2 separate regions of the Homo sapiens genome follow, and region 1 is linked to region 2. Evidence: fine-mapped expression QTL. A gene starts in region 2. The other region holds a variant in brackets. All regions are shown on one strand. Distances are between the middles of the regions. Region 1 overlaps SFXN2 (sideroflexin 2). Region 2 holds the start of SFXN2 (sideroflexin 2).

The links.
Region 1: its variant is fine-mapped to the expression of SFXN2 in tibial nerve (GTEx, PIP above 0.99).

What each region holds. Positions count from the first base shown.
Region 1 is chr10:102,730,000-102,743,301 of GRCh38, forward strand. It overlaps SFXN2 (sideroflexin 2), which reads left to right. Exons shown (of 12, transcript NM_178858.6): 7 at 1,724-1,784; 8 at 2,153-2,219; 9 at 2,860-2,909; 10 at 3,555-3,604; 11 at 5,863-5,910; 12 at 7,664-13,302. The coding sequence ends at 7,763. Among named protein-coding and RNA genes, the nearest start is that of WBP1L, 7.3 kb to the right of the region's middle. RefSeq lists an enhancer at 1-321. The variant A/T (reference allele first, on the strand shown) is at 9,476.
Region 2 is chr10:102,705,701-102,722,710 of GRCh38, forward strand. SFXN2 (sideroflexin 2) reads left to right here and starts at 8,936. Exons shown (of 12, transcript NM_178858.6): 1 at 8,936-8,981. ARL3 (ARF like GTPase 3) reads right to left here and starts at 8,697. Exons shown (of 6, transcript NM_004311.4): 1 at 8,573-8,697. The coding sequence starts at 8,575. RefSeq lists silencers at 8,357-8,456, 8,497-8,546, 8,614-9,008, 8,827-8,976 and enhancers at 8,762-9,338, 9,339-9,914.

The DNA of each region.
Region 1 (13,302 bases), 22 kb after region 2:
GGCCGTGTGTTGAGTCCCGTGGGAGTCCTCTCCTGGGTGATGTGGGATGGGAAAGACAGGGTGGACCTGTGGAGTTTTACACTGGATCATGTCCTTTTGGACCTGTGTTAAAATTGTGAACTCCTCCTACTTCCCAAGCCCTGGGGATGGCATACAGAATGAAATGTAGCAGGCTGAGGTGTCTAAAGATAGCATAGAACCCAGAAGCTTTGAAAGAAGCCAGAGGAGTAGACAGAAGTTTTCCAGGCACCCAACTCTAAGCTTTTCAGGAGAAAAGGTAAAGGAGAAACTCATTGTGTCTCACAGTTCTTATTTCTTGACTAGAGAAATCTCTGTTATGAGGTTTTAATGATGTAATATATGTAAAGCACTCAAAATAGCACCTGGAACATAAGAGATGCTACATAAGTGTTCACTGTTATTTCTACCATTGTCATCATCATCAATATCTACAAGCCACATTTTCTTGGGACTACCAACAAATGGAAAATGTTCACACTAGTCTTTGTAGAGGAAGCACTACCAGAATAGTTGTGCACACATGCTGCTCCATTCATCTTTCCTTCCCCATCCAGTGGCCCTTTCCTAACAGGAGAATGAGTCCCTGCCACCTACCGGGGCTTGAGTTGAGTGCTGTCAAGAACTGGCCTGAGAAGAACAGCTGGGGTGGGCTGGGTGCGGTGGCTCACGCCTGTAATCCCAGCACTTTGGGATGCTGAGGCAGGAGGATCACCTGAGGCCAGGAGTTTGAGACCAGCCTGGCCAACATGGCAAAACCCCATCTCTACTAAAAATACAAAAATTAGGGCCAGGCGTGGTAGCTCACGCCTGTAATCCCAGCACTTTGGGAGGCTGAGGTGGGCGGATCACGAGGTCAGGAGATCGAGACCATCCTGGCTAACACGGTGAAACCCCGTCTCTACTAAAAAATACAAAAAATTAGCCAGGTATGGTGGCGGGTGCCTGTAGTCCCGGCAACTTGGGAGGCTGAGGCAGGAGAATGTTGTGAACCCGGGAGGCGGAGCTTGTAGTGAGCCAAGATCGCACCACTGCACTCCAGCCTGGGTGACAGAGTGAGACTCCATCACAAAAAAAAAACCAAAAAACAAAAACAAAAATTAGCCGGGCATGGTGGCGCATGCCTGTAATTCTAGCTACTGGGGAGGTTGAGGCAGGAGAATCGCTTGAACCCAGGAGATGGAGGTTGCAGTGAGCCAAGATCATGCCACTACACTCCAGCCTGGGTGACAGAGTGCGATTGTCTCAAAAAAAAAAAAAAAAAAAAAAGGAATAGCTAGAGTAGCTACTGTTTGTGGAGTGATCACACTGTGTGTCAGGTGCTGGACCAAGTATTTCATAGCCATTATCTCATTTAATCCTTACCAGGTCCTGTAAAGTGGGTGCCAGGATGATCCCCATTTTGCAGATAAGCAAAACTGAGGCTTTGGGAGGGTTAAAGACTGTGCTCAAGGTCACACACATCCCCTGCAGTTTCAGGACTCAACCCAGACAGTCCGGGCCCAGGGCCACCGCTCTCAGCCACTGCCCTAGATCACTCCTAAGATACTGCTTATTGGAGTGCAGAAGGAAGGTCAAAGGCCCAGGCTACAGGAGGTGGCTTCCTGGAGCTTAAGTGGCCTGGCCTTGGTCCCCTGGCATGTCATGTGGCTGGCAGGCTTCCATCACCCCTTTCCCAAGTCCATTAACTCCTGTCTGTGTTTAGGGAGCTCATAAAGGGAATCTGCGTGAAGGACAGGAATGAAAATGAGATTGGTCATTCCCGGGTGAGCAGAGGCCTCCCTTTGGGGTGGGAGGAGGGAATTCCCTCTCATACCCTGTCCCCTCCTTAGTGGTCAGAGTAGGCACCAATATAGGATTGAGAAGCCTTTTCTGGCTCCATCCTCACTCCCTATCAAATTTTCCCCATGTTTCTCTGTTCAGAACAGGCCCCTTCTCTCTTTTCTCCATCATTTCTGGTCCATAAAAACCTGGCTAGGTGGGAGGGGATAAAGTGAGGTCACTCAGCAACTGGAGGGTCCTTCCCTTCCCCTTTACCATCTCAGACTTGGCCATGATGCTGACCCAGCCCCCTGGTGCAGCACATGTACACTGGATACATCATTTCTGACAACTTACTATTTTCTGCCCTCAGAGAGCTGCGGCCATAGGCATCACCCAAGTAGTTATTTCTCGGATCACCATGTCAGCTCCTGGGATGAGTAAGATGGGGAAGCCCTTCCATCCTGGGGAAGCCTGTGACACAGGGTGGAGGTCTCAGCCACACTCAGCTTTTGGGTGGGAGGTGGGGCCCACCTTCTACAGCCATGCTTCTCAAACTGCTTTGCTTGATTGCTGTAAGCCTAGAAGAACCACACTAGTTCCTAGAACATCAGTTCATCCAAGGTTTGGGGTAGAAAGTTATTTTCATTTTATTAATACTTGTCAAGCCCTTGTGTTTAATGTTAGACACAGTGTGGGGTGCTAGGGAGAGTGATAGAGAAAATAAATTCCCTGCTTTGGTTTGCTTCCAGCAGTGGGTGTATTGCAAAATTTGTTTGCACGAACGTACAAATACATTTTTGAGTTTTGAGAAGGTAGCTTTGGACCTAGCAGCACATGTTTTCCTGATATTGCAAGTGTGCAGGTTGAGAAGCTTGGGAAGCACTGTTCTGCCAGGACTTTGGGGAGAAAGTTTGGGGGTGGTCATGCCTACTTGCTCTTCTGTTCTGCCTAGTGGTAAGTATTTTCTGGAGCTTCTGCTGAAGGAGAGGGAACCACTTGGTTCCTGGTCTGACTTCAGAAGGAGTCCTGGGGAGAGCCTCCCAGCCCTCCCCTCAGCTTCTCCCTGGTCTCTTCCAGTCTTGCTGCCAGTCATCATGGAAAGGCTTGAGAAATTGCACTTCATGCAGGTATGTAGGGTTTGCTTTGGCATTTTCCCTGCCCAGAGTGCGTCCAGCCACATCTGTCCCTAGGGATACCTGACCTGCCCTCCCCCACCCATCCTTCCCTTTAGCTACCATGCTGTCATCTCACTCAAGCCCACACCAATCTCCACTGACCTCCTGTTTAGATATACCATGGCCAGTTTCCTTACCTGGTCTGCAGAGAACAAGGCCTTCTTTAAGGGCCAGGGGGTCCTTGCCTGTGGGTTTTTCTTTTTTCTTTTGAGATGGAGTCTCGCTCTGTCGCCCAGGCTGGAGTGCAGTGGCGCGATCTTGGCTCACTGCAAGCTCCGCTTCCTGGGTTCATGCCATTCTCCTGCCTCAGCCTCCCGAGCAGCTGGGACTACAGGTGCCTGCCACCACGCCCAGCTATTTTTTTTGTATTTTTAGTAGAGACGGGTTTTCACTGTGTTAGCCAGGATGGTCTCGATCTCCTGACCTTGTGATCTGCCCATCTCGGTCTCCCAAAGTGCTGGGATTACAGGCATGAGCCACTGCGCCCAGCCACCTGTGGGCTTTTCTAGCTGGCTGATCCATGGCAGAGCAGGGTTGGGGTTCACCTTAAGGCATAGAAGTACCATGTGGATCTGTCTTTTATTTGTTTTTATACAGAAAGTCAAGGTCCTGCACGCCCCATTGCAGGTCATGCTGAGCGGGTGCTTGTAAGTATCATATTTTGATGATTTGGGTTCTGCGTGGCTGGAGCACTCAAGATGTGTCGTCTTGTCTAGCCCGTGTTGGAGAACGTGTACTCCTTTACCTGACTTTAAAAGTGGTCAAGCTCAGAATACCTGTGGTCCATCTGGAAAGCTCTCACCCCATCTTTTGTGAGGGCATCAGGCTGGCTAGACTTTATGCACGTGTCCATGTAGGAAGTCCAGTGCTGAGGTGCCCTCCCATCCCAGGGTCTCTCCTTTGACCTTAAGTCTGGAGCAATTTTTTTGTTTTTTGCTTTTTTTTTTTTGAGATGGAGTCTCGCTCTGTCGCCCAGTCTGGAGTGCAATGGCGCAGCCTCAGCTCGCTGCAACCTCCACCTCCCAGGTTCAAGCAATGCTCCTGCCTCAGCCTCCTGAGTAGCTGGGATTACAGGCACGCACCATGATGCCTTGCTAATTTTTGTATTTCATCATGTTGGCCAGGCTGGTCTCGAACTCCTGACCTCAAGTGATCCACCTGCCTCGGCCTCCCAAATTGCTGGGATTATAGGCATGAGCCACTGCGCCTGGCTGTCTGGAGCAGTTTTACAGAAGAGATAAGAACGAGGAGACATAGCTTTGGCTGGGACTGTCATGTGTCCCAGACTCACACAGGAGGGAAATGCCACCAGTCACGTCAGGGTTCTTAGGTATCTGCCATTAACTGGAGATGTCCTAGCGTTCACCATGCATTTCAGGGCCACGAGACTAATGACAGCATCACTAACAGCTAACACTGACTGTATATTTTCTCTGTGTCCCCACTGAACCCAGTGTTTCATATCTATAATTTCACTTAATTCTCCCAGCCTTAGAAATCTACATATTATTATCATCTCCTTTTACAAATGAAGAAACTGAGACTTAGACAGAGTAAGAAACTTGCCCAAGGGTATATAGCTGGTAACTGCTGGAGCTGAGATTTGATCAACAGTCTAACATTATGCTATACCAACTTCTGCTAATTGAGTAGTTACCATGGGCTGGGTGCTTTACATACATATCTCATTGAATCCTCACAGTAACCCTGCAAAGTAGGCACTGCAAAGTGGTCTGCAGTAGCCCTAAAAAGTAGGTTGTCCTCCCTCTGTGTCTCTGAGGTAACTTGTCCAAGATGGCACAGCTAGTAAGTGGTAAAACTGGGATACCAACCCAGGTCTGTCAGAGTCCCGCGTCCTGTAAGACCTTGCCTCCCAAACCCTGGTCCATGCCAGCATCGTTGGCATCCTCTGATAACTTGTTAGAAGTAAAGACTCTGAAGTCCTTCCCCAGACCCCCTCAGTTGGCACCTGGCATTTTAATAAGCTCCTGAAGTTATATGCACAGTGAAGCTGGAGAAACTGCCTTTCACTGTGCTCTGACAGCCCAGGTGTTCAACCAATAAAGAAGCAGGTCTCAGAATCCACAGACTCACTCCTCCCCCTCCATAGTGCCCCTCCCCCACTCCAAAGTGCCCCTCCCCATCCTGGTCACTCCTCCCGATACAAGTCAATCCTCCCCCTCCAAGTTGCTCCTCTCCCTCCTCATCCCTCCTCCCCTCTGTGTCCTTCCTCCCTCTCCATGTTGCTCCTCCCCTCCATGTCCTTCTCCCTCTCCATGTTGCTCCTCCCTGTCCAAGTAGTTCTTCCTACTCCAAGTAGTTCCTTCCCTCCAAGTCACTCCTCCCCCTTCAAGTCGCTCCTCCCCATCCAAGTTGCTCCTCAACCTCCAAGTCATTCTTCCCTCTCCAAGTCGCTCCCCACCCTCCATGCTGTTCCTCCAAGTTGCTCCTGTCCCTCCATGTCGCTCCTCCCCCTCCATGTCCCTCCTCTCCCTCCATGATGCTCCTCCCCTCCATGTCGCTCTTCCCCCTCCATGTTGCTCCTCCCCCTCCAAGTTTCTCCTCTCCCTCCTCGTCGCTCCTTTCGCTCGATGCCAGCAGTGCCTGTGCTCCTTAGGCCTGCTGCTCACAGTCCCTGTTTACTTCATTGTCTTCTTCCTCTGCTTGAACAATGCAGTAAGGGTGGGAATGAGTGATGGGGGTCAGGAGGGTACTGGTTTTATCCCCCTGCCAGAATGAGTATCCTCGCACTGCGGGAACAGGAGGAGGGTTGGAGGGAGAGGATATGGTGCCAGCTGGGAAGGCAGGCCAGGTGCCTGGGCATTGCTCCTTTCCCTTGGGGATGGGGGATGGACGGGCCTGTGGGGAGATGTCCCCTGATGCTTTGGTTTCTCCTTTCTTGCAGCCTCATCTTCATGGTGCCAGTGGCGTGTGGGCTTTTCCCACAGAAATGGTATCTGCTGTTCATTCCTTACTTGGTTTAATTGACCATGCTGCCAGCGCGCTCCCTGATCTGCCTGCTGTCCAGAAGGAGACAGGGAAGGGGCAGGAAGGGCAGCACCTGTCTGAGGACAAGTGTCCATCAGCCTAAAGGCTGGGCCTCTTAACCCTGGTGAATTCTGACAAACGAAAACAGATCTGCGAGGGGCAGGAGAAGCCAGGGACAGGAATAAGGTTGCTCCCTCCCAGTGGAGCAAGCACTGCCTTGAAGAGAAGGTGGGGGAGCAACAACAGACTTTCTCTTCCTGCCAGCTGGGTTATTAGGAAGCTCTCCTCTGGCTGGATCTGGTTTTTAACTTTTTTTTTTTTCTTTTTTTTGAGATGGAGTTTCACTCTTGTTGTCTAGGCTGGAGTGCAGTGGCACGATCTCGGCTCACCACAGCCTCCGCCTCCCAGTTCAAGTGATTCTCCTGCCTCAGCCTCCAGAGTAGCTGGGATTACAGGTGCCTGCCACCATGCCCAGCTCATTTTTTTTTTTTTTTTTGAGATGGAGTTTCACTCCGTCGCCAGGCTGGGGTGCAGAGGTGCAGTCTCGGCTCACTGCAACCTCCGACTCCCTGAACGATTCTCCTGCCTCAGCCTCACGAGTAGCTGGGATTATAGGCACGTGCCACCACGCACAGCTAATTTTTGTATTTTTAGTAGAGACGGGGTTTCACCATGTTGGCCAGGATGGTCTCAATCTCCTCACCTTGTGATCCGCCCGCCTCAGCCTCCCAAAGTGCTGGCACTACAGGCGTGAGCCACCGCGCCTGGCCTCATTTTGTATTTTTAGTAGAGATGGGGTTTCACCATGTTGGCCATGGTTGGTCTTGAAATCCTGACCTCAGGTGATCTGCCCGCCTCAGCCTCCCAAAGTATTGGGATTACAGGCGTGAGCCACCGTTCCCCGTTGGTCGTTAACATTAAATAAGGGGGCTGGTCGTGGTGGCTCACGCCTGTAACCCCAGCACTTTGGGAGGCCGAGGTGGGCAGATCACCTGAGGTCGAGAGTTCAAGACCAGCCTGACCAACATGGAGAAACCCCGTCTCTACTAAAAATACAAAATTATCTGGGTGTGGTGGTGCATGCCTGTAATCCCAGCTACTTGGGAAGCTGAAGCAGGAGAATTGCTTGAACCTGGGAAGTGGAGGTTGCGGTGAGCCGAGATTGCACCACTGCACTCCAGCCTGGGCAACAAGAGTGAAACTCCATCTCAATAAATAAGTAAATAAATAAATAAATAAATAAAGGGACAGGCAGAGGGCTGACAACCGAAACCCCTCTATTTCCTTTGTGTGTCCAAGAAGGAGGAAGCAGGGAGAAGGGATGATGGAAAAGGGAAGGGATACATCAGACTAGGGGGTGGAGGGTGACTGACCCCAGGAGACAAGTGTAGCTTGAATATATACCCAGACAATTCCAGTCTCCCCTTCCTCAGTACTCTAGTTCAATACTACTTCCATGGTCATCTGCTAGACATCTCTTGTGTCCCAAGCACTGTGTTTGTAATCTTGTGGAGAAGATGGAAGTTGAAACGAAGAACCATAGCCCAAGGAGAATGAAGTCAGGCCTGCGTAATGGTAAAGCAACATTGTGGTATACAGAGGCCAATAATAATCCTAGATGGAAAAATCAGGAGGGCTTCTTGGAGGTGATATTCATCTGAGGGTAACTTACTGCTTGTTCCTGGTGGCATGCTCATAATCCACTTCTCTCTTTTCAGTGAATTGCCAGTTTCCTATCTGGAACCGAAGCTCCAAGACACTATCAAGGCCAAGTATGGAGAACTTGAGCCTTATGTCTACTTCAATAAGGGTCTCTAAATGCCCCACTTCAGCAAGGACCAGTCTATTCCCATATTCACCAGCTCCTCCTTAGCTACGTGCACACTTGTGTCCTCCTTCCCCTTTGCCAACAAGGCCTGAAGGCCAGGGTAGATTGGGGGGTGGGACAATGAATGCCTCATACTTACACCCTGGTACTGGTTGATTGGACCTCAGGGGAAAAAAGTGAAAAAGGGTAGCAAAGGCCAATGTCTTCTAGCTGCTTCCTCAACCCCTGTCCCCTGGAGACCAGAAGCTGAGGCCCTCTCAGGGAGGAGACATCCAAGCAAATCATTTGGAAAAGTTAGGAAACCTTTAGGATTCTGGTTCCAGCCAGGGTTGAGGAAAAGACCTTGGATCAAAAGGAAGCTTCTATACCTCTTTCTTCTTCGCTTCCTCCTCTCCCAAGCAATGGAAACTTTTACCCATGTAATTCTAGCTGAACTCAGGAAAAAGAAGGGGGAAAGGACTCTGTCCCCTTGGGGCTCATCACCCTTCCACATCCTCCTCCTCGTTGCCCCCTGGTCAGGCAGCTTCTTTTTTTTTTTTTTCAAGATGGAGTCTTGCTCTGTCGCCCAGGCTGGAATGCAGTGGCGCGATCTCGGCTCACTGCAAACTCTGCCTCCTGGATTCAAGCGATTCTCCTGCCTCAGCCTCTCAAGTAGCTGGGATTACAGGGCACCTGCCACCACGCCTGGCTAATTTTTGTATTTTAGTGGAGACGGGGTTTCACCATGCTGGCCAGACTGGTCTCGAACTCCTGACCTCAGGTGATCCGCCCGCCTCAGCCTCTGAAATTGCTGGGATTACAGGCATGAGCCACCACACCCAGCCCGGACAGCTTCTTTGGGAGTGCTGCTAACCTTGAAATTATCAGACACTTAGGAGTTATTAGTGCTAAAAAGGGGACCGTGCAAGGCAGCAGAGTTACATGGTTCTTCAAATCATGTCTGAACCTATTCTTGGAATCTTCTCTATAATAAGGGAAGTTCTCTTACCCCACTGCCACATACCTCTGTTTTAAAAGATAAGTCCACTAACTGTGAGTAAAAATGATATATATAGGCATTAACCACACACTTTAATGGGTATAATTTCCTGGCTGCCTCCCTTCCTCAGCCCATTAGGTTAAACACCAAAGAAAGACTGGTGTGTACTGAATAGGAAAGGGAAGTTTTATTTGGAACCTTCTAAGAGGAAATCAACCAGGACCAAAGAGCCTTAAAGGACACACAGCAATGCACAGCCACTTCCCTTCCCCAGCTTGGCTGCCCTAGGTGATTTCTCAAGCTCCTTGGGGGACTGTTGTTTCTCATCTGGAATCAATGTGTGTATGAGTTTTGTCTGGTAGGATTGCTGACTCTGTCCAACAGATATCACTGTGAATTGAATAAATTTGTTGAAAGAGCACACAGGCACACATACACACAAACTGTAAACTAAGTTAATGAAGCCTGAATGGAAAGCAGGATCTGGCCTTACTTTGGCCTTGGCATGTCAGAAGGTATCACAACTACTATATAAGGGGAACTTGTCTGATGCCTGGAGGCTGTTGTTTATTTCCCTCATTAAAGGGGAAATCCACCTGTCTCCACAGGAAGCTCCAGATCTCCCAGAATGGGAGCTGTGTTGCCCTAGAGCAAGAGTTGGCAAGCTATGGCTCAAGGGGCCAAATCCACCTGCCACCTGTTTTTGTGCAATTGGAAGCTAAG[A/T]ATGTTTTTACATTTTTAAAGAGTTGTAAAAGGGAACAACAGGAATGACAGAGACCCTACCTATGTGGCATACAAAGCCTAAAATATTTACTGTCTGATCCTTGACACAAAAAGTTTCCCCTGCCCTGGAGCAGTGGTTCTTAAGCACATGCATCAACCGGGCGCAGTGGCTCATGCCTGTAATCCCCACACTTTGGGAGGCCGAGGCAGGTGGATCACCTGAGGTCAGGAGTTCGAGACCAGCCTGATCAACATGGTGAAACCCGATCTCTACTAAAAATACAAAAAATTTGCTGGGTGTGGTGGCATACACCTGTAATCCCAGCTACTCGGGGGGCTGAGACTGGAGAATCACTTGAACCTGGGAGGTGGAGGTTGTGGTGAGCCAAGATTGCGCCACTGCACTCCAACCTGGGCGACTCCGTCTCAAAAAAAAAAAAGAAAACACATCAGAATTAGCTGGCAGGCTTGTTAAAGCACAGATTGCAGGATCCATTGCCAGATTCTGTCACTCTGGGCTGGAGCCTGAGAACGTGCATTTCTAGTCATTGCCCGGTGATGCTGATTCTGTTGGTCTTGGCACCATACGTGGAGGAGCACTGCTCTAAGGGGAAAGGGCCTCCTCCCCGAGGCCAAGGAATTCACTGCAACTTGATTTTTCTCCCCGTTTAAAAAAGTTAAAATATAACTCACATACCATAAACTTAGTCCTTTTAAAGTGTACAATTCAGTGGTTTTTAATGTAGTCACAAAGTTGTACAAGCATCACCACTAATTCCAGAATTATTTTGAGACAGGATCTCACTCTGTTACCCTGGTTGGAGTGCAGTAGTGCAATCACTGCTCATTGCAGCCTCAACCTCCTGAGCTCAAGTAATCCTCCTGCCTCAGCCTCTGGGGTAGCTGGGACCACAGGCTAATTTGATTTTTTTGATGAGGTCTCACTATGTTGCCCCAGGCTGGTCTCGAACTCATGGCCTCAAGTGATCCTCCTCCCTCAGCCTTCCAAAGTGTTGGAATTACACACATGAGCCACTGCATCTGGTCTCAGAACATTTTTCTTAGCCCCAAAAGAAACCCCATACCCATTGGCAGTCACTCCACATTCTCCCTACCTGCCAGCGCCTCACAATTCACTTCCTGTCTTTAGAGATTTGCGTATTCTGAACATTTCATGTAAGTGGAGTAATGCAGTATGTGGCCCTCTGTGTCTGGTTTCTTTCCTTAGGATAATGTTTTCAAGGTTCATCCATGTTGTAGCATATGCAATTTGATTTTAGCTGGTGTCTGAACAGAAAAGTCTGTCTTTGAGCTAGCTTCTTTAGGACAGGAGACCTGGCTTTATTTCCAAAAGCAAATAGGAAAAGGGAAACATTACCAGAGCCAGTAGAGCTTGGAAACAACTCCTGACTGATGTTCTTTCAGAACATACAATGTTTCCCCTTCCTTCTCAGCTCCTCAAGCCTCTTGGATTTCCTGTTCTCTTATAGACAACTGCTCTTTTGGAAATGTCTGGAAGGTATGTGGTGGCTATAATGTTCAGGGACATTCTAAAAAGTGGTCACTCAAACTGCATCTCAGTCTCATTTTGTAACATCTCTCTTCTTTGAGTTGGCTGCTGTGGGATGTTGAATAAGAGGCAGTTAAGGTTACTAAAAGGCCTTGGTGTGGGAAGTGCTAATCCAGACTGTCCTATCCAATAGCTCAGCTTGAGCTTTCAGGTAAAAGGAGAAAGGGAAGTTGGGGCAAAATCCCCTGTGTTTGCCAAACTGAATTGGGGTTTCTTATTTATTGAGAGAAAGAGGGTATCACTTTCTTGCCCAGGCTGGAGTGCAATGGTATGATCATGACTCATTGCTTCCTCAGCCTCCTGGACTCAAGTGATCCTCCTGCCTTAGCCTCCCGAGTAGCTTCTTTTTCCTGAGTTCGGCTAGAATAGCATGGGTAAAAGGTTCCATTGCTCGGGAGAGGAGGAGGAAGGGAAGAAGAAGAGGTATAGAAGCTTCCTTTTGATCCAAGGTCTTTTCCTCAATCCTGGCTAGAACCAGAATCCTAAAGGTTTCCTGACTACAGGTACATGCCACCATGCCCAGCTAATTTTTAAATTTTTTGTAGACAGAGGGCCTCACTATGTTTCCCAGGTTGGTCTTGAACCCCTGACCTCAAGCAATCCTCATGCCTTGGCCTCCCAAAGTGTTGGGATTACAGGCGTGAGCCACTACATCCCACCTGGGGTTTCTTAGTGATGATGAAACCTAGCCTTTATGTGGAAGACTTACAACTTTTTGAGGCCAGGAATTAGAGACCTTGTGCCATGAAAATAATTTGGTCCTTCCCTAGTACTCAATTTTTACTTCTCCTCTAAGGAGCTTGACTTGTGGAATGGATAAATTTCTAAGAAACGAGAGATTGGCAAAAATACGTGTCACTTTTTATAGTACTTGGAAAAGCAGGATCAAGATAAAGGCAGAACTATGGACTTTCTTAAGCTGAGGGAAGACTGACTTAACTCTTACCTGTTTCCCATTTTTCCAACACTTAAGCCAAGAACAACTTCCTCTGGGCTCAGATGTGGGCTAGACTGGGCCAGGCTGTAAAACACTTTGACAGGTTTTTGAGAGGAAATTGACTGCTAAAGTCAACTGTGTTATTTGCCATGGGTCTTCCTTTGTCCATTTATTTTACCAACTTTTTTTTTTCTTTTTTTTTTGAGACAGAGTCTCACTCTGTCACCTAGGGTGGAGTGCAGTGGCACAGTCTTGGCTCACTGCAACCTCTGCCTCCCAGGTTCAAGCGATTCTTCTGCTTTAGCCTCCTGAGTAGCTGGGACTACAGGCATGCACCACCACGCCTGGCTAATTTTTTGTATTTTTAGTAGAGATTGGGTTTCACAATGTTGGCCAGGCTCGAACTCCTGACCATGTGATCCGCCCACCTCGGCCTCCCAAAGTGCTGGGATTACAGGCAGGAGCCACCGCACCTGGCCTTTTTTTTTTTTTGAGACAGGGTCTCACTCTGTTGCCCAGGCTGGAGTACAGTGGCACAATCAAGGCTCATTGCAGCTTCAATCTCCCTAGCTCTGGTGATTGTCCCACCTCAGCCTCCCAAGTAGCTGGGACTACAAGTGTGCACCACCATGCTTGGCTAATTTGGCTAATTTAGTTTTTTTATTTTTGTAGAGACAGGGTTCTCTCCATGTTGCCCAGGCTGGTTTCAAACTCCTGAGCTCAAGGGATCTACCTGCCTCAGCCTCCCAAAGGGCTAGGATTATAAGCATGAGCCACCACACCTGGCTATTTTACCAACATTGATCAAGCTCTGGTTGAGCCTTGTACAGGATATTATAGGCTTTAAAAGAAGAAGAAGAAAGACCTGGTATGCTGTACAAAAAACTGCAAACCAGGCACGCAGATATAAGTGTTACAAGAATCCAGAAGAAGCAGCAAGGAGATGGGGCTAGGAGTTTGTAAGCAGGGAACTGTATCTGTAATATGTAAATGAAGTTACTGGGCATCTCTTCAATGGTCAGTGTGAGTGGAATGTGTGGGAAAATGTAGTGGTGAGAGGTGAGATAAAGAGAAGTAGACAGGGACGAAGTCACAGAGAGGACCGTGTTGGGAAGTTTGGACTCTCTATTCTGTAGGTAGATGAAGTATTTAAAAGAAGAGGCCATGATATAGTAATATTTGGTTTAATGTGGTATGGTTGTAGTGTGTGGCGGAAATTTGAGAGGAAGAATTGTCAACTTGCAGGGCAGCAGGGAAGCCATTTGTATTTAGCTAGAAGAACATGGATTGAAGCAATGGATGATGGATTTCAGAGCAATT
Region 2 (17,010 bases):
GCTTATTTCTGCTCCTCCAATCAATCTAGCTTAGCAGTCACCCCAAATCTCCTGGGAGTGTGAACTCTACCCCATCTGTGTTCCTAAAGCCCTTTACATACACTTAGAGCAGAACATTCATCATATCAAACTAGGTAACTGATGTTTGTATTTTTCTCCTTTACTAAAGTTTCTCGTGGTAAGGGCTATACTTGTCCCATAATGCCTGGCACTTATCAAACAGACACTAGATAACACTTGTGGAATTAAATAGGATGACACACCCAAGTTAACACACGATTTTAAGGTGTTATACAAAAATATATAAAAAGGCTATATAAAATTATAGTTGGGCTTCCTGTTAATGATTTTATCTATTTCATCATTTCACATTGCATGCCTGTATCAAAACATCTCATGTACCCTATAAATATATAACACCATGGACCCACAAAAATTAAAAGGAAAAAATTTTTAAAAAAGATTTTATCGCCGGGCACGGTGGCTCACATCTGTAATCCCAGCACTTTGGGAGGCCAAGGTGGGCGGATCACGAGGTCAGGAGATCGAGACCATCCTGGCTAACACGGTGAAACCCTGTCTCTACAAAAAATATAAAAAATTAGTCGGGCGTGGTGGCAGGCGCTTTGTAGTCCCACCTACTCGAAATGCTGAGGCAGGAGAATCGCTTGAACCTGGGAGGCGGAGGTTGCAGTGAGCCGATATTGCACACTGCACTCCAGCCTGGGTGACAGAGCAAGACTCCGTCTCAAAAAAAAAGATTTTATCTATTTCAGCACATCTTCAAGACTTCTTCATTCAAAATGTTCTACTATCATCTTTCACAAGACCCTACAGGATAGGTGCATGGTATAGATAATCTGTGTTTTTTAGATGAAAAATTTGGTACAACAGAGAAGTTAAGAAATCATAAAAGGCATCCATGAAGCAAAACAAAACAAAACAAAACAAAAACCCACCAAAATTAACCAAGGAATTTTTTACTGTTAATCTAATATTTCCCTCTGTCACCCAGGCTGGAGTGCAGTGGTGCAATCTCGGCTCAACTACAACCTCTGTCTCCTGGGTTCAAGCAATTCTTGTGCCTCAGCCTCCAGAGTAGCTGGTATTACAGGCATGTGCCACCATGCCTAGCTAATTTTTATATTTTTAGTAGAGATGGGGTTTCGCCATGTTAGCCAGGCTGGTCTTGAACTCCTGGCCTCCAGCGATCAGCCCACCTTGGCCTCCCAAAGTGCTGGGATTACAGGCCATGAGCCACCTCTCCTGGCCATTATTTATTATTTTTTATGGATAGAAATATAAAGCATGTTGCTGGGCATGGTGGCTCACGCCTATAATCCCAGCACTTTGGGAGGCCAAGGCAGGAGGGCTGCTTGAGCCCAGGAGTTCAAGACCAGCCCTGGCAACATAGTGAGACCCTGTCCCTACAAAAAATAAAAAACAAATAAGCCAGGCATGGTGGCGCAGGCCTGTGGTCCCAGCTACTCAGGAAGCTGAGGTGAGAGAATTGCTAGAGCCTGGGAGGTCGAGATTGCAGTAAGCTGTATTTGTACCACTGCACTCCAGCCTGGGTGACAGAGTGAGACTCTGTCTCAAAAAGAAAAAAAAAGAAAAAAGAAAAAGAAAACAAAGAAAAAATAAATAAACCATGTTGATTTTTAGTTAAGAACATAAGAACATCTTTATAGGAAAGTTATTTGTTCTGTGCTATAGCTGATAATCTTGTTCTAACGACACATGGCTAGAACAAGAGTCAAAGAATCCCAGAGTTTAAAGGGCATATAATTTAATCTCCCAGCCCAAGAAGAAATTCCTTCAAACTGAGTCTTAGAATTATGCAAAATGGTTGTATTTGTTATTCACATTGTACCAGGCAATAATTCAAACCAGTTTGTTCACTAAGATCAAAGGATACTTCTGAGAAATAATTCTCAACAACTGCATCTTTGGACAATCATACGCAAATATGCATAATTATTAAGAATTCCTTTCTGCCTCAGAGACTCTTTGTTTACCACTTCTAGTACTGTATCTGTACTGACTTGCTAAGGACCACATTAACCTTTCTATGCCTCAATTTTTTCCAGCAGTAAGATGGAAGGTTTAGTCTAAGCTAGACAAATTCTATGCCAAAAGATTTGGGGGACAGAGATTGAATAGATTGGAAACAAACAGAAGTCTGGCTTTTTAAAAGGCCAGACTTTTTTTTCCTTTTTCTTTTTTTTGGGGGGACAGGGTCTTCCTCTGTGGCCTAGGCTGGAATGTAGTGGCGTGAACACGGCTAACTGCAGCTTCGACTCCCTGGGCTCAAGCGATCCTCCCACCTCAGCCTCTCCAGTAGCTGGGACTACCGGCTCACACCACCACGCCCCACTAAGTTTTGTATTTTTTGTAGAGATGGGGTTTTGCCATGTTGCCCAGGCTGGTCTTGAACTCCTAAGCTCAAGCGATCCACCCAAAGGCAAGATTTTTTTTTTTGCTGTTTTTATCTCATCTGGTCTTGAATACTTTGACAGCATTCCTTCTTAAAACTATATTTACAAGAAGTCTCCCTGGTTTCTATTAGCTATATTGCAATCACTCATTTATAATATCACCTTTCAGAAAAGTAAAAATTAAAATTCTGAGATCCTTAGGGGACTGGTGACATAAAAAGGCTAAGAGGAAAACCCATTTTACTACTCATCCTGAGTTCCTGATTGTAAGTGAAAAGAAGAGGTCTCATTACCTCTTAAAATAAATTATAAAACATCTGGAATTTATCAAATTAGTACATTAAATGACACAGGCAAAGTTCTTCTCATGCATTTTCTGCTTAGTGCAGAAATTATGAAGGAAGATCTGTTTCCTATTTTAAAAAAAATTTTTTTTGGCCGGGTGTGGTGGCTCACACCTGTAATTCCAGCACTTTGGGAGGCCGAGGTGGGTGGATCACTTGAGGTCAGGAGTTCGAGACCAGCCTGGCCAACATGGCGAAATCCCGTATCTACTAAAAATACAAAATTAGCCGGGTATGGTGGCACATGCCTGTAATCCCAGCTACTTGGGAAGCTGAGGCAGGAGAATTGCTTAAACCCAGGAGGTAGAGGTTGCAGTGAGCCAAGATCATGCCTCTGCACTCCAGCCTGGACAACAAAAGTGAAACTCCATCTCAAAACAAAAACAAAAAATAAAACCATATATTATATATATATATATATATATATTTTTTTTTTTTTTGAGACAAGGTCTCACTCCTAATGCCAGGCTGGAGTACAGTGGTGAAATCATGGTTCACTACAGCTTCAGCCTCCCAGGCTCAGGTGATCCTTCCACCTCAGCCTCCGGAGTAGCTGGGACTATAGATGTGTACAACCGCACCCAGCTAATTTTGTGTATTTTTAGTAGAGACAGGGTTTCACTATGTTGCCCAAGCTAGTCTCAAACTCCTGGCCTTAGGCAATCTGCCCGTGACGGCCTCCCAAAGTGCTGGGATTACAAGAGTGAGCCACTGCACCCGGCCTATAAAATATTTTCAAAGTTTAAAATTAATGTTTTGGGTTTTTCCTCATGTGTCTCTTTTAAAGAAGTTACTAAAAATACTGTTTTTTTTTTCAGGCAGAGACTTGCTCCACACTCATTACATTTGATATTAAAGAATTAAGAGAAAAACAAGGCCAGGCACAGTGGTTCACACCTGTAATACCAGTGCTTTGGGAGGCTGAGGCAGGAGGATAGCTCAAGGCCAGGAATTCAAGATCAGCCTGGGCAACAAACACGAGACACATATCCCTACCAAAAAAAAAAAAAAAAAATTATCCAGGTGTGGTGGTGTGCACCTGCGGTTCCAGCTACTCAGGAGGCTGAGACAGAAGGATGGCTTGAGCCCAAGAGTTTGAGGCTGCAGTGAACTATGGTCGGGCCACTGCATTATGGGCTAGGTGACAGAGCAAGACTCTGTCTCAAAAAAAAAAAAAAAAAAAAAGAGACAAACATAATGTTTATTCACCTTAAAAGGAGAGGAGCAAAGCACAGATAAGAAAGAAAAAGAAATCATTCTAACTATAAGGCTGAGTGCAGTGGCTCATGCCTGTAATCCCAGCACTTCGGGAGGCTGAGGCTGGCGGATCATTTGAGGCCAGGAGTTTGAGACCAACCTGGCCAACATGGTGAAACCCTGCCTCTACTAAAAATACAAAAAATTGGCCAGGCATGGTGGTGGGCACCTATATTCCCAGCTACTTGGGAGGCTGAGGCAGGAGAATCGCTTGAACCTGCGAGGTGGAGGTTGCAGTGAGCCGAGATCACACCAGTGTACTCCAGCCTGGGCCACAGAGCTAGACTGTTTCAAAAAAAAAAAAAATTCTAACTATAGATAAACTTTATTAACCTAATGGTGTAGAATACAGTGCTTCTACATTTCTAATGAGTAATTTTCCTTATTAGGAAATAATAACTTCAGATACTTCACCTTTGAGTGAAATTACAGAGAAATGCAAAGTTCAGCTAATGTTTTCTTCCAGCAAAATGATAAATGGCATTTCAAGCATGGTCTAGGGAAGACAAGTGCAAATATAATACAGCATCATATTAATCCAACTACTGAGGATGGGATCACAGGATTATCAGGGTTTGCTAAATAGGGAAGAGGATATTTATAGAGATCAGGGTTCTGCCTGAAAGGTACAAAGTAAGCTGATTTAAGAGGCTGGATGAAAGAGACCAGAATAAGTCTATTCTGTGCATCTATACATATATGCCCATATTTTATTTTAACTGTCAAATGAAGGGAGACAGCGATTAGAAGTTAAATTTATCATAGGGCTGAGTTTTGCAGTATAAATACAATGACATTAATTTTTAAAGTGCATTTTTTGGCCAAAATATCCATTCACGCAATTATCATTAAACACCCTTAATGTGCCCCAAGTACAACAGTGAGCAAAACGGGCATGATCTCTATGTAGGATTTATATTCCTGTGACATTAAATAAAACAATTTAAGAAACATGAACTTCAGTTAAAAGTATATTGTGTGTTACCAGCATGTGTGTATACAAGTTATCTACACCCTGGTGGGCAGAAGTGGTCTGACTCAACCACAAAACATTTAAACAAACTTTTCTACAGTCAAATCATGAATAGATGTGCTATGGACTACAGACGTTTTATCTGCCTCGAAATCAGCTTAAACTACTGGCAGAGGCATGGTGCCCTGACCTAAAACAATACAAACTAGGTCATTCAAAGAAACCAGAGTGGTGGAGGGAGAAGGAATGCGTTGGTATATGGAAAATATATGTGGTTGTGAGGACCAGCTAAAATTTGAATTCTGAAATTACGAAGCCAACAGTCAAGTACATACGGTCCCCATAACTAGCTTAAATATAACTGACTTCCATTTGTTTTTACGTCTTTCAACTGAACTCCTATCAGCTTAAAGCTCAAAATTGAGAACTTAATCCAAACTGTGTCTTCTTTCTCATCACCCTCTCCTAAATAAATACAAACAATGTTTCCTAAGGAACAAAGTCTGAGCATCTCCTCAGGAAGAGTGGGTTCCCACTTCACCAGAGTCCTAATGAAATGAATGTTATGGGCTTTAGAATTTCACAGACTTGTATTCAGCTTCTGTGTGTGTGTGTGTGTGTGTGTATATATATATATATATGTATGTATATGTATCTGTATATATATATGTATATATATGTATGTGTGTGTGTGTTTTTATATATATATATGTATATACATAACACTGCACACAGTTTCAGCTAGAAAATAGGAACAGGCCGGGCGCGGTGGCTCACGCCTGTAATCCCGGCACTTTGGGAGGCCGAGGCGGGCGGATCACGAGGTCAGGAGATACAGACCATCCTGGCTAACATGGTGAAACCCCGTCTCTACTAAAAACACACACACACAAAATTAGCCGGGCGTGGTGGCGGGCGCCCATAGTCCCATCTGCTGCGGAGGCTAAGGCAGGAGAATGGCGTGAACCCGGGAGGCGGAGCTTGCAGTGAACGGAGATCGCGCCACTGCACTCCAGTCTGGGTGACAGAGCAAGACTCCGTCTCAAAAAAAGAAAAAAAAAAGAAGAAAACAGGAACAATACTTACATCTCAAGAGATGATGCTATGAGGATGAAATGAGGTCATGTATGTAAAGCATGACACATAACAGCCACTGAAAAGACTACCCTCGTGTTTTGTTTATTTTTTTAAAATAATTTTTCACGGGCCATTTTCTAACCAGAAAACATAAGTAACTGTTGGGAACAATCTTCAAATGTTGAACATGCTTGAGAACGACCACAAGCTCCATATATGTAGAAAGTGCTCCATAAATAATTACTGAATGAAGGAATCATATGTTAAATATAAGTGGTTAGTTACGTGCTAAAATTACTGTCATTTTAGTATTTTAGTAATTCATCAAGAACCTGGCACTGTAAAGCAGGGGTAAAATAGCTGACTCTAAATGTTCAGAGAAACCCATATTTGGGTTTTTGCCACAGTTACCCAAATTTGAAAAAAAATATGTATTTGTCACAGCTGAAGTTTAAAACAAAAACCAAAAAAACCTTGGGGTTCACGCTTCAGTTGTACAGTTAACCATGGGGGCTCATGGGATACCAGATGGGATACACTTAAGTCACACGACTGACTAAATTCAGTGTTTCACTTCAAGTTTTAAGAACAGCTCACGCTTGTGGAGATAGAAAAAAAATGTTTTTGGGAAACCAGATAAAGAATCCGGAATAATTTGTCTTAATTTCTTATTGTTCATCTTAGGAAAAAGGAAAAAAGAAAAACAAAATCTGTTTTCATCATTGAACACAACAGTTGTATACAACAGTGTTGTATATACACTGTAAATTTGTTGTATACTGTGCCAATTTGCACCTGGAAACATGGGCAGTGGTTAATTTACTGTGGCCTGTAATTATAAATTAAACAATCATGGATTACACAGTACACTTAATTGATCAACAAACTGGGAAAAGTTAGCCAACTCTCATGCACTTCTCATCCATAATGATGAATCTCAATCTCTGTTGGTTCGGCATGCCCTTTTCATTCCAATTCTAGCTATTTTCTGGGTAAATATTTATGTTTGTACTCATTTGTTGAGAAAAACTTTAACTTTAAAAGGACAGCTCACGTATAAATGATTAAGAAAAAGAAACAGTTGTAAAAATCTGTTTAGCCTGAGGTTAAAAAAAAACTGCAAGTGTAGCAAGTGTGAAATGTGATTGGCAACTTCAGATCAAATAACCCTACTTCTTTAACAATCTGACAATGTAAAATCAATTGAGTTTTTTTTTTCCTTTCTAAATCTACTCACTGGATAATCTGACCAAACATACATCTATTTTTTTTTTTCCTGGGCATCTAGTTTTTTTGTTTTTTTTTTTACTTCTTAAATCAACAGAAATGGCTCAACATTTCTAAAAGTCAAGAAAGGAACTAGGAAGAGAGTTGGAGCAGTGACTATAAGTTTGATGACAGGCTCTTTGCAGCCAACTAACCTGCTTTAAGTGTTCAAAATCAATTTTTCTTTGATAGCTCTAAAATTACTCAATTCCATTTTAACTCCCTCCAACTAACTGTACAGACATTAACAAGAAACAGAGTGTCAACGGTCAGATCTGTCACAACCATAATTTAGAATTTGGGAAAGCTTTAATTGGGACTGACAGAGAAAAGCCTTGCCCCGGATTGAAGTTCGATCTCCATTTTTAACTTCTCGTTCTTTTCAGTTTGGAGAACTCAAGCTAGGATTAAGATCTTTTGGTCCTGGTATGGTCACACGCAAGAGGAGACTGCAAAAGGTTTCGAAGGAAATTCTAGAGACGGAGCAGCTAATATGTCTTCATCAACATGGATTATGTATTGAATGAAAAATCGGTCATCACCAACAATCAGATCCTGCAAAACTCTCAGCAAATAACTAAATAATTCGGGACTGAGGAAGCGCACCCGCCACGCAGACACCAAGACGGCGTAAAATCCACCAGGCATCCCTTCCAAGCGGCACCCCTTTGTGTCGTGGGACTTACTTCCCTACCCCCCAGGGGCCCGCACAGCGCGAGAAGGAGGAGAGCTAGGCTACCATCTCCCCTGCTACCGCCAGGGCGACCTCAGAGCCAATGGGGCCGGCCTTCTCTCCGCTTCTGGCCGGGCTCCAGACGAACCCCACTTTACTGCAAAGCCGCGAGACCGATTGCCCGGGAAGTCTAAGCCTGCTAGCGAAAGCTGCTCTCCGCAGTTCCTGGGATCCGCCCTCACCCCTGTCCCCAGAGTAATGATGGAGCCCGGGCTCCGCACCCGGCCAGCCGCGCACTCTGCCAGCCCCTTCCCCAAGCCTCGGACCCGCTGCAAGCCCCGCCTTCCTCTCCAGGCCCAGGCCTCCCTCCAGGGCCCACCCTCGGGTCTCCCCGCCGACCCCCGAAATCAGTCCACAACCCAGATAGCAGGCTGAGCGACGTCCCATTCCCTCCTTGGCTTTAAGCGCAGTGCTCCGCCCTGGGCCTGGGGACGGGAGGGGGATAACCGGCCGGCTCCAAGGGGGCCCAGGCCCCCACACTCACCATCCTCCCGCCGAGTCCCTCCTCCTCCTCCTCCTCCTGCTGCCTCCCCCGTTACCAGGGGCAACTGCTGCGGCGCCGCCCCCGACGTCCCTCGCACGCACAGCTGAGGAGCTGAGCAGCAATACGGGGCGGGGTGCAGCTCCGCTTTCCCCAGAGTGCGCAAGTGCGCTAAGGCGCCCGCCCACGCAGTGGGCGGGCTACGGGAGCTGCAGAGGCCGCCGCCGGCTCGCCTGGACCAGGGAGTGGAGAAAGCCTGCCCACGTGGCTGGCGGGAGCCTCCCGGCCTGGGATTGGTCGAAAAGGAGGGGCGTGGGGCGGGCGTGGGGGCAGTTCCCCAGCCCAGGTCCTCCTCTCACCCGGGCCAGTTTTCAAGGCGGGCTGTAACTGGTGGCATTTGTCCCGGGACCAGGTAAGGGGCCTTGGGACAATGGCGCTCGCCCTGTCTACCTCCAATCCCCACATCTCGGGTGGGTGCTGAGATTGCTGTCCTGACTGCCCAGGCGGGGCTGCAGCGCGGGCTGGACTTCCACCTGCAGAAGCCACGTGGCGCGAAGTGCGCCCTGGGGCTGCAGATGGGCCCCTCTGCTCTGACCCCCATTGCCTAGGAGTGCCAGGCCGAGCGGCTGGGGCGTTACGAGCTGTCCGGGATGGGGGAGTACCGATGGGGGGAGGCCGTCTGTCGGAGGGCAAGAAGCAGCCTGGGGGCTGGCCCTGAGCCCTGAGGTGAGCTGAAAGCACAGGTGAAAGGCGTTTTGGGGATCGGCCCGGTTTTTGTTTTGACACAGGGTGTCGCTCTGTCGCCCGGGCCGGAGTGCGGTGGCGCGATCTCGGCTCACTGCAGCCTTTGCCTCACAGGCTTAAGCGATTCTCCCGCCTCAGACTCTCGAGTAGCTGGGATTGCAGGCGGGCGCCACCACGCCTGGATAATTTTTTGTATTTTGTTTTTGTAGAGACGGAGTTTCGCCATGTTGCCCAGGCTGGGCTCGAACTCCTGGGGTCAAGCCATCCGCCCGCCTAGGCCTCCCAAAGTGCTGAGACTACAGGTGTTCCAAAGTGGTGAGCCACTGTGCCCAGCCTCTGGCCGGTTTTGCTAAGCTGCTTTGGACAGGACCGCGTACCATCTGTAGTCCTGGAGGAGGCAAAAATGAGCCTGCATTTTTAGCCAAGGAAGAGCAAGTGGGACACTGGGGTGGGTTGGGAAGTGCTACCTCCCATCCCTTTCCCGATGCAGAGGACTATAAGAAGAGTTTACACAAACGTGCTAGGCCCTGTTCTAGACGCTGGAGACACAGCAGTGGACAAAATCAGCCCGTATGGAAATTACATCCTTCCTAATGAAATACATTTCATACCAAATTTCATTTTCACAACCCCTAGAAATTGGTAATTGCGGCCAGGCGCAGTGGCTCATGCCTATAATCCCAGCACTTTGAGAGGTGGAAGGGGAGGAAGGCTTGAGCCCAGGAGTTGGAGACCAGCCCGGGCAACACAGTAGGACCCTGCCTCTACAAAAAAAAATTTTTTTTAATTAGCCAGGTTCCGTGGCGCACTTGTAGTCCTAGCTACTCGGGAGGTTGAGGCTGGAGGATTGCTTGAGCCCAGGAGCTATTATCACATCACTGTACTCCAGCCTGGGTGAAAGAGCAAGACCCTGCCTCAAAAAAAAAAAAAAAAATGAAAACAAAAATCAACATCTGCTGCTTGCATACCTGCTTCAGATCCTTGGAGAGAAAAAGCAGTTCAGAGCCTTGACTAAGGAGGTGATGAATGGAGGTGATACAGGAGCACAAACCCCTATAATCTACTCATCTCCAGACTGTTGGCCCTTTTGTGAAAAAGGCAAGGGAGGTTGCTCTTTCTAAGTTGTCTGGTGCCTAACAGCCCACTTGCCTTGGAGTCAGACGAGTACCCATAAGCCTATACCTGGGCCTGCTCTTGTAATTATTACCCTCATTTTCCAGCTTGCTCTAGGCAGCCTTGACCTTAATCCTTGCCTGTCTCAGTGGTCTTTGTGTCTGACCTTCTGGGGTCTTTGGCTACCTTGATCTTCCTCTGATGTGAGTACCAGCGATGATGTTTCGTTTTTCTCCCTACCTGGGGCTACAAACAGTAATCTTGTGCACTTCTGCTTGTAAGAGGATACCTCAGAAGGAATTTGGAAGCTTGTTTTCTGATCTCTGATACCATTTGCCAGAGAAAATCTGCTCTTTCTGGGAAGGATGAGCATTACGTCAGAGGTGGCAGTAGTCTATTACTTTTTTTTTCTCTTTGTTTCCCTCTCTTTCTTTCCTTTTTTTTTTTTTTTTTTTTTTTGAGATGGAGTTTCACTCTTATTGCCCAGGCTGGAGTGCAACGGTGCGATCTCGGCTCATCACAACCTCCACCTCTCGGGTTCAAACGATTCTCCTGCCTTAGCCTCCCAAGTAGCTGGGATTACAGGTATGCACCACCACGCCTGGCTAATTTTTTATTTTTAGTAGAGACGGGGGTTTCTCCATGTTGGTCAGGCTGGTCTTGAACTCTCAACCTCAGGTGATCTCTCTGCTTTGGGCTCTCAAAGTGTTGGGATTACAGGTGTGAGCCACCGTGCCAGGCCTCGGAGTTGGCAAGTAGGCTATAGTGGATAGAGGACCTTGGGGAAGTAAGGCCTTAGCTGTTGTCCAATCTTTGAGGACTGGATCTGTTGATTGTTCGTGTTTATATCTGCTGCAAGCGCTTAGTGCAGGGCCAAGTGTATCAAAAATGCCCACTGTGGTGGCCCAATCCATGTGCACCTTTCTAGGCTTCAGTTTCCTCTTCTGTAAACTGAGATCTTAGATCACATGTCTTCAGGCTATGACATTCTCTCTCTCTTTTTTTTTTTTTTTTTTTTTTGTGGAGACGGAGTCTCGCTCTGTCACCCAGACTGGAGTGCAGTGGTGCGATCTTGGCTCACTACAACCTCCGCCTCCCGGGTTCAAGCGATCCTCCTTCCTCAGCTTCCTGAGTAGCTAGGATTACAGGTGCGTGCCACCACGCCTGGCTAATTTTTTGTATTTTTAGTAGAGACAGAGTTTCACAGGGTTAGCCAGGATGGTCTCGATCTGACCTCGTGATCCGTCCGCCTCGGCCTCCTAAATTGCTGGGATTACAGGCGTGAGCCACTGCGCCCGGCCTCAAGCTGTGACATTCTCTAATCCTAGGAGGGAGATATCATTAAATCACTGGTCTGATTTTTACTCCTACTTTGTTCCTAGTAGTGGGACCATACAGAAGTGGGGCTACCCTGGACATGATGATGACCTTTTTAGGGAAGACTAGATGTGGCTTGTGTGGGAGGAGGGACAGTAACTGTAGAAGAAAATTTAGAGACCAGTATGACTTAGTACAGGCAAGGTAGACAGTTTTGCAACTTCATGAAAGAAAGCGTGCTCTTAATTCTGTAACCTAGGCAGGTTCTAAGTTTGACTTAAAAGAGGTGACATCCTTGATGCCAAGAGACCCAAGAAGAAGTTGGAATGCATTTCAGGTAAGCAGTAAATATTCTTCGAGGGCATGTGAAACATGTAGCAGTAAACATCACAGACATGATCCCGATGCTTGTGAGCCTTACAGTCTGTCAGGGGAGGCAGACTTTACACAAATCACAGTCAATGACAAGAAGGTGACAATCACAAACGCCCAGCATGCTGCAAAGGACAGGATGCTGTAGGAGTATATATCACAGAAGGATTTGAGTTTGTCCTGAAGGAGTCGGGGAAGAGTGCCCATTGGGGGACAGTGGGTGTGTGGGGGGAAATGTTCCAGACAGATCGTTTAGTGTTTTTTTTGTTTTGTTTTTGTTTTGGCTTTATGTTTTATTTAAGACAGGGACTCTGCAGTTTCTATCCTGACTTCAATTAAGAAGGCAAAGGCTCTTGCATAATTAGCAAATGTTTAGATTACCCCTTGATGATAGTCCCTCCATTCTGAGAAGCAGAGGACTTTGCAATGTTGTGTTAAGGTGAACAGAGATGTCAGAGAAGGTCTGGCTCTGTGTGTATGTGTGTGCTGAGGGGGAGGCATAGCATTTTGCTCAGTCAGGCTGTCTCCAGCATGTATGAGCCTGGGGCTCTGTAAGCCAAGGCAGCGTGTGTTCAGCCAGCCAAGCTGACTCCTTTTAGGTTCATGTAGAGCATGGGAAAGTGAACTCTTTCCCCTCCTCCCACTCTTGCTTCAGCTGGGACTGAGATAAATGCCTTTGGTCTTTGAAGCAGCCTGCAGGAGGCCAGGTGGCAGGGAGAGGGGAAGTCTGTTTTGGCAGTGGACTCTTTCTGTCTGCCTTCTGACTTCTCTGGAGATTGCCGCTTCAGAGAAGCATCGGGGCCAGGCCAGGGCGCTGTGGATACTCCATATTGAGCCTCTCCTCTTGTTCCTGGTCTTTCCTCTTAGGAAATGGCGTACCTCCAGCATATCAGCTTCCTGATGTCTCTTCCGCCTTAACGAAAAATCTAAAAATTGACCACTGCTCTTCCTTCCCCAACACTGTCCCTTCTGCCTCCTTTCTTGAACTTGAACTCCTGGCCTCCCAAAGTGCTGGGATTACAGGCCTGTGCCTGTCTCCACCTCCTTTCTCTCTTCTTTCTGGTGGTTCTTCCCATCTTTGGGGGCTTCCTTTTCTCGGCTTCTTTTTTTTTTTTTTTTTTTTTTTTGAGACAGGGTCTTGCTATGTTGCCAAGATGGAGTGCAGTGGCGCCATCTCGGCTCGCTGCAACCTTCACCTCCCGGGTTCAAGTGATTCTCCTGCCTCAGCCTCCCAAGTAGCTGGGATTACAGGCGCCTGCCACCACGCCCGGCTAATTTTTTGTATTTTTAGTAGAGACAGGGTTTCACCATGTTAGCCAGGCTGGTCTCAAACTCCTGACCTCGTGATCCGCCCGCCTCAGCCTTCCAAAGCACTGGGGTTACAGGCATGAGCCACCGTGCCCGGCCTCAGCTTCTTTTTTTTTGAGACAGAGTCTCACTCTGTTGCCCAGGCTGGAGTACAGTGGCACAATCTCGGCTCACTGCAACCTCCGCCTCCTGGGTTCAATCAATTCTTGTGCCTCAGCCTCCTGAATAGCTAGGATGATAGGTGCCTGCCACCACGCCCAGCTAATTTTTGTATTTTTTTTTTTTATTAGAGATGGGGTTTCACCATCTTGGCCAGCCTGGTCTCAAACCCCTGACCTCAGGTGATCCACCCGCCTCGGCCTCCCAAAGTGCTGGGATTACAGGTGTGAGCCACTGTGCCCGGCCTTGGCTTCTTAAATGTCCTGATTTTTCAGGGTTTGTCCTCAGCTCTCTCCTCTTCCCATTCTGTGTGTTCTCACTGGAAAACTTTATCGTAAATCACCTCGATGCTGCTGACTCAGTTTTTTCCTTCTAGCTCTGACCTCTGTTTCCTTTCAAGCCTGAATACCCACAGGCTGATGAACTTCTTATTCAGCAAATACTTGAATATTGTGCTAGGCACTGGGGTGACAGTCGTGAGCAAAATGAACATACCACCTCACTTCACAGGTGAATTATTTAACTTAGCTAAGGTGCTATTTCCAAGAAAAAAACAAAATGACCTAGTAGTAGAAGCTATAGAAGTAAATCTGAAAATTATTTGTACAAAAAAATAAAAGGACAAATAGGTACTATTTAGTGAAGAGAGGAAAGACTAGCTTTTGAGTATTGTGTTTGGAAAGGACCTGAGACAGGAAGAGGCCTATTGCATTTAAGAAAATCCCGGCCGGGCTTGGTGGCTCACGCCTGTAATCCCAACACTTGGGGAGGCCGACGCGGGTAATGGGTCACGAGGTCAGGAGATCGAGACCATCCTGGCTAACACGGTGAAACCGCGTCTCTACTAAAAATACAAACAATTAGCTGGGTGTGGTGGCACGCACCTGTAATCCCAGCTACTCAGGAGGCTGAGGCAGGAGAATTGCTTGAACCCAGGAGGTGGACGTTGCAGTGAGCCGAGATCGCACCACTGCACTCCAGTCTGGGTGACAGAGCAAGACTCCCTCTCAAAAAAAAAAAAAAAAAAAAAAAAAACCCATGGCAGGACCGGGGCTGGTAGCTCACTCCTGTAATCCCAGCACTTTGGGAGGCTGAGGCAGGTAGATCCCTTGAGCTCAGGAGTTGAGACCAGCCTAGCAACATAGGGAGACCCTGTCTCTACAAAAAATACAAAAACTAGCCGGGCATGTTGGCACATGCCTGTGGTCCCAGCTACTTGAGAGGCTAAGGTCAGAGGATCGTTTGAGCCTGGGAGGTGGAGGCTGGAGTAGTGAGCCATGATCATACCACTGTACTCCCACCTGGGCAACAGAGCAAGACCCTGTCTCAAAAAAAAAAAAAAATCCCATGGTATTTGAAACTTAACATGCAGAAATCAAGCTTACTATTAATATTTTCTCCCTCAAAGCCAATTTTTCTGTGCTCTCCCTGTTAGCACCTATCGCCCAAGTCAGAAACCCTAGGTATCACTCTGGATATTTGTCATGTGTCAACTTGGCTAAGCTAAGCAAGACTCCCGGGATTCCCTCTCTGGTATATTCCAGTTATAGTGGCTACCCAGGAGCACACACACACCATCTTCCAGCTCTTCAGACAAACAGTAATCTAGGTGCTGCTGTGAGGGGATTTTGCAGACCTAATTAAATTCCTCAATTGTTTGGCTTTAAGTTAATCAAAAGGGAGATTATCCTGGGTGGCCTGACCTAATCAGGTGGAAGCCCTTTAAAGGAGGGCTAGAACACCCCTGAACCCCCTCTGAGGTTCTGGACTCTGAGCCATTACCCGCGTTGCTCCCTCTCCCCTGGGATGGTCTGTTGCTGGCCGCCTGCCCTGCTGACTTCAGGATTGCCTAGCCAACAGCCACAGTTATGTGAGCCAATTCGCTAATTCCTTGTGATAAATCAATTTCTATATTTTATCAATATTATATTACGTCAGCATTATATATATTTAGGCCAGGAGTGGTGCATGCCTGTAATCCCAGCACTTAGGGAGGATGAGATGGGAGGATTCCTTGAGCCCAGGAGTTTGAGATTACAGTGAGCTATGATTGCACCACTCCACTCTACCCTGGGCAACCAGCTGAGACCCTGCCTAAAAAAAGAAGAAAAAATTATAAAATCTATATAGATAGATCAACATATATTTATAACATATAAAGTTATATATTTATATATGATTTTATATAGCTATATGAATTATTTATGTTTATATATTATTTTTATATGTTATATTTAAACGTAATTCATGTCTATATAAATAAATGTATATATAAATTTATATATTATAAATATATGTTGCTATATCTATAAATTTAAAAAATTATATATTTATATAGTTATATAATTTATATATTTAGAAAATATATATTATAGTATACAAATATATTTTAGAAATATATAAAATATGTATATGTGTGTGTCATAGCCAGGTGCAGTGGCACACACCTGTAATCCTGGCACTTTGGGAGGCCAAGGCAGGCAGATTGCTTGAGCTCAGGAGTTAGAGGAACTCCATGTTGCCCCATGTTATGTTTTGGTATCTACCTGTCTGTCTGTCTGTAATCTACTGATTCTGCTTCTCTGGTTGAACCTTGACTGATAAAATGTTCCTCTTATACCTATTGCTTAGCAGACCTTAACATTCCGCTTCTTTGAAAGATTCTCTCCTGTTGGTCTCTCCTCTGAGTGCACGTGGGTTCATTTGAGCCCTACCTCTTCTTGCCTGGATTACTGGGGTTCTCGTCCAGCTGGTCTCCCTGCATCCCGTGAGGTCCATCCACATCCTGTTTATTCTCATGACTACCCAGTTTGTTCTTAGTAAACTACATATCTGATCTTGTCACTCTTCTTCTTAAAGTCTTTCAATGACTCCCTGAAGCTTTCAGGCAAACATTTAAAAGCGTCAGCTTTTTTTGTATGACTCCATTTTCTCTCCTCTCTTAGCATATCAATTATACTTCTTTTGAAAACCTTTTTAGTGGTTGCCCAGGAGTCTGCAATGTACATTTATGACTAATCCAAATCCACTTTCAAATAACACTATACCACTGCATGGAGTGTGCAAGTACCTTAGAATGGAGTCCTCCCAATTCTCCCCTCCTGTCCTTGATATTACTGCTGTCATGGATTTCTCTGATCCATAAACTGTAATCACCAAATACATTGTTGCTACTATTGTTTTAAACAAACGTATCTGTTTGTTAACTGTTAACAGTTCAGAATAAGAGAAATAAAGATTTTTATTTGTTTGTTTGTTAGTGTTTTTTCCCAGACAGGGTCTCACTCTGTCGTGCAGGCTGGAGTGCAGTGGCACGATCACAGTTCACTGCAGGCTTAGCCTTAGCCTCCCAGACTCAAGCAGTCCCCGCACCTCAGCCTCCCAAGTAGCTGGGACCACAGGCACATGCAACCACGCCTGGCTATGTT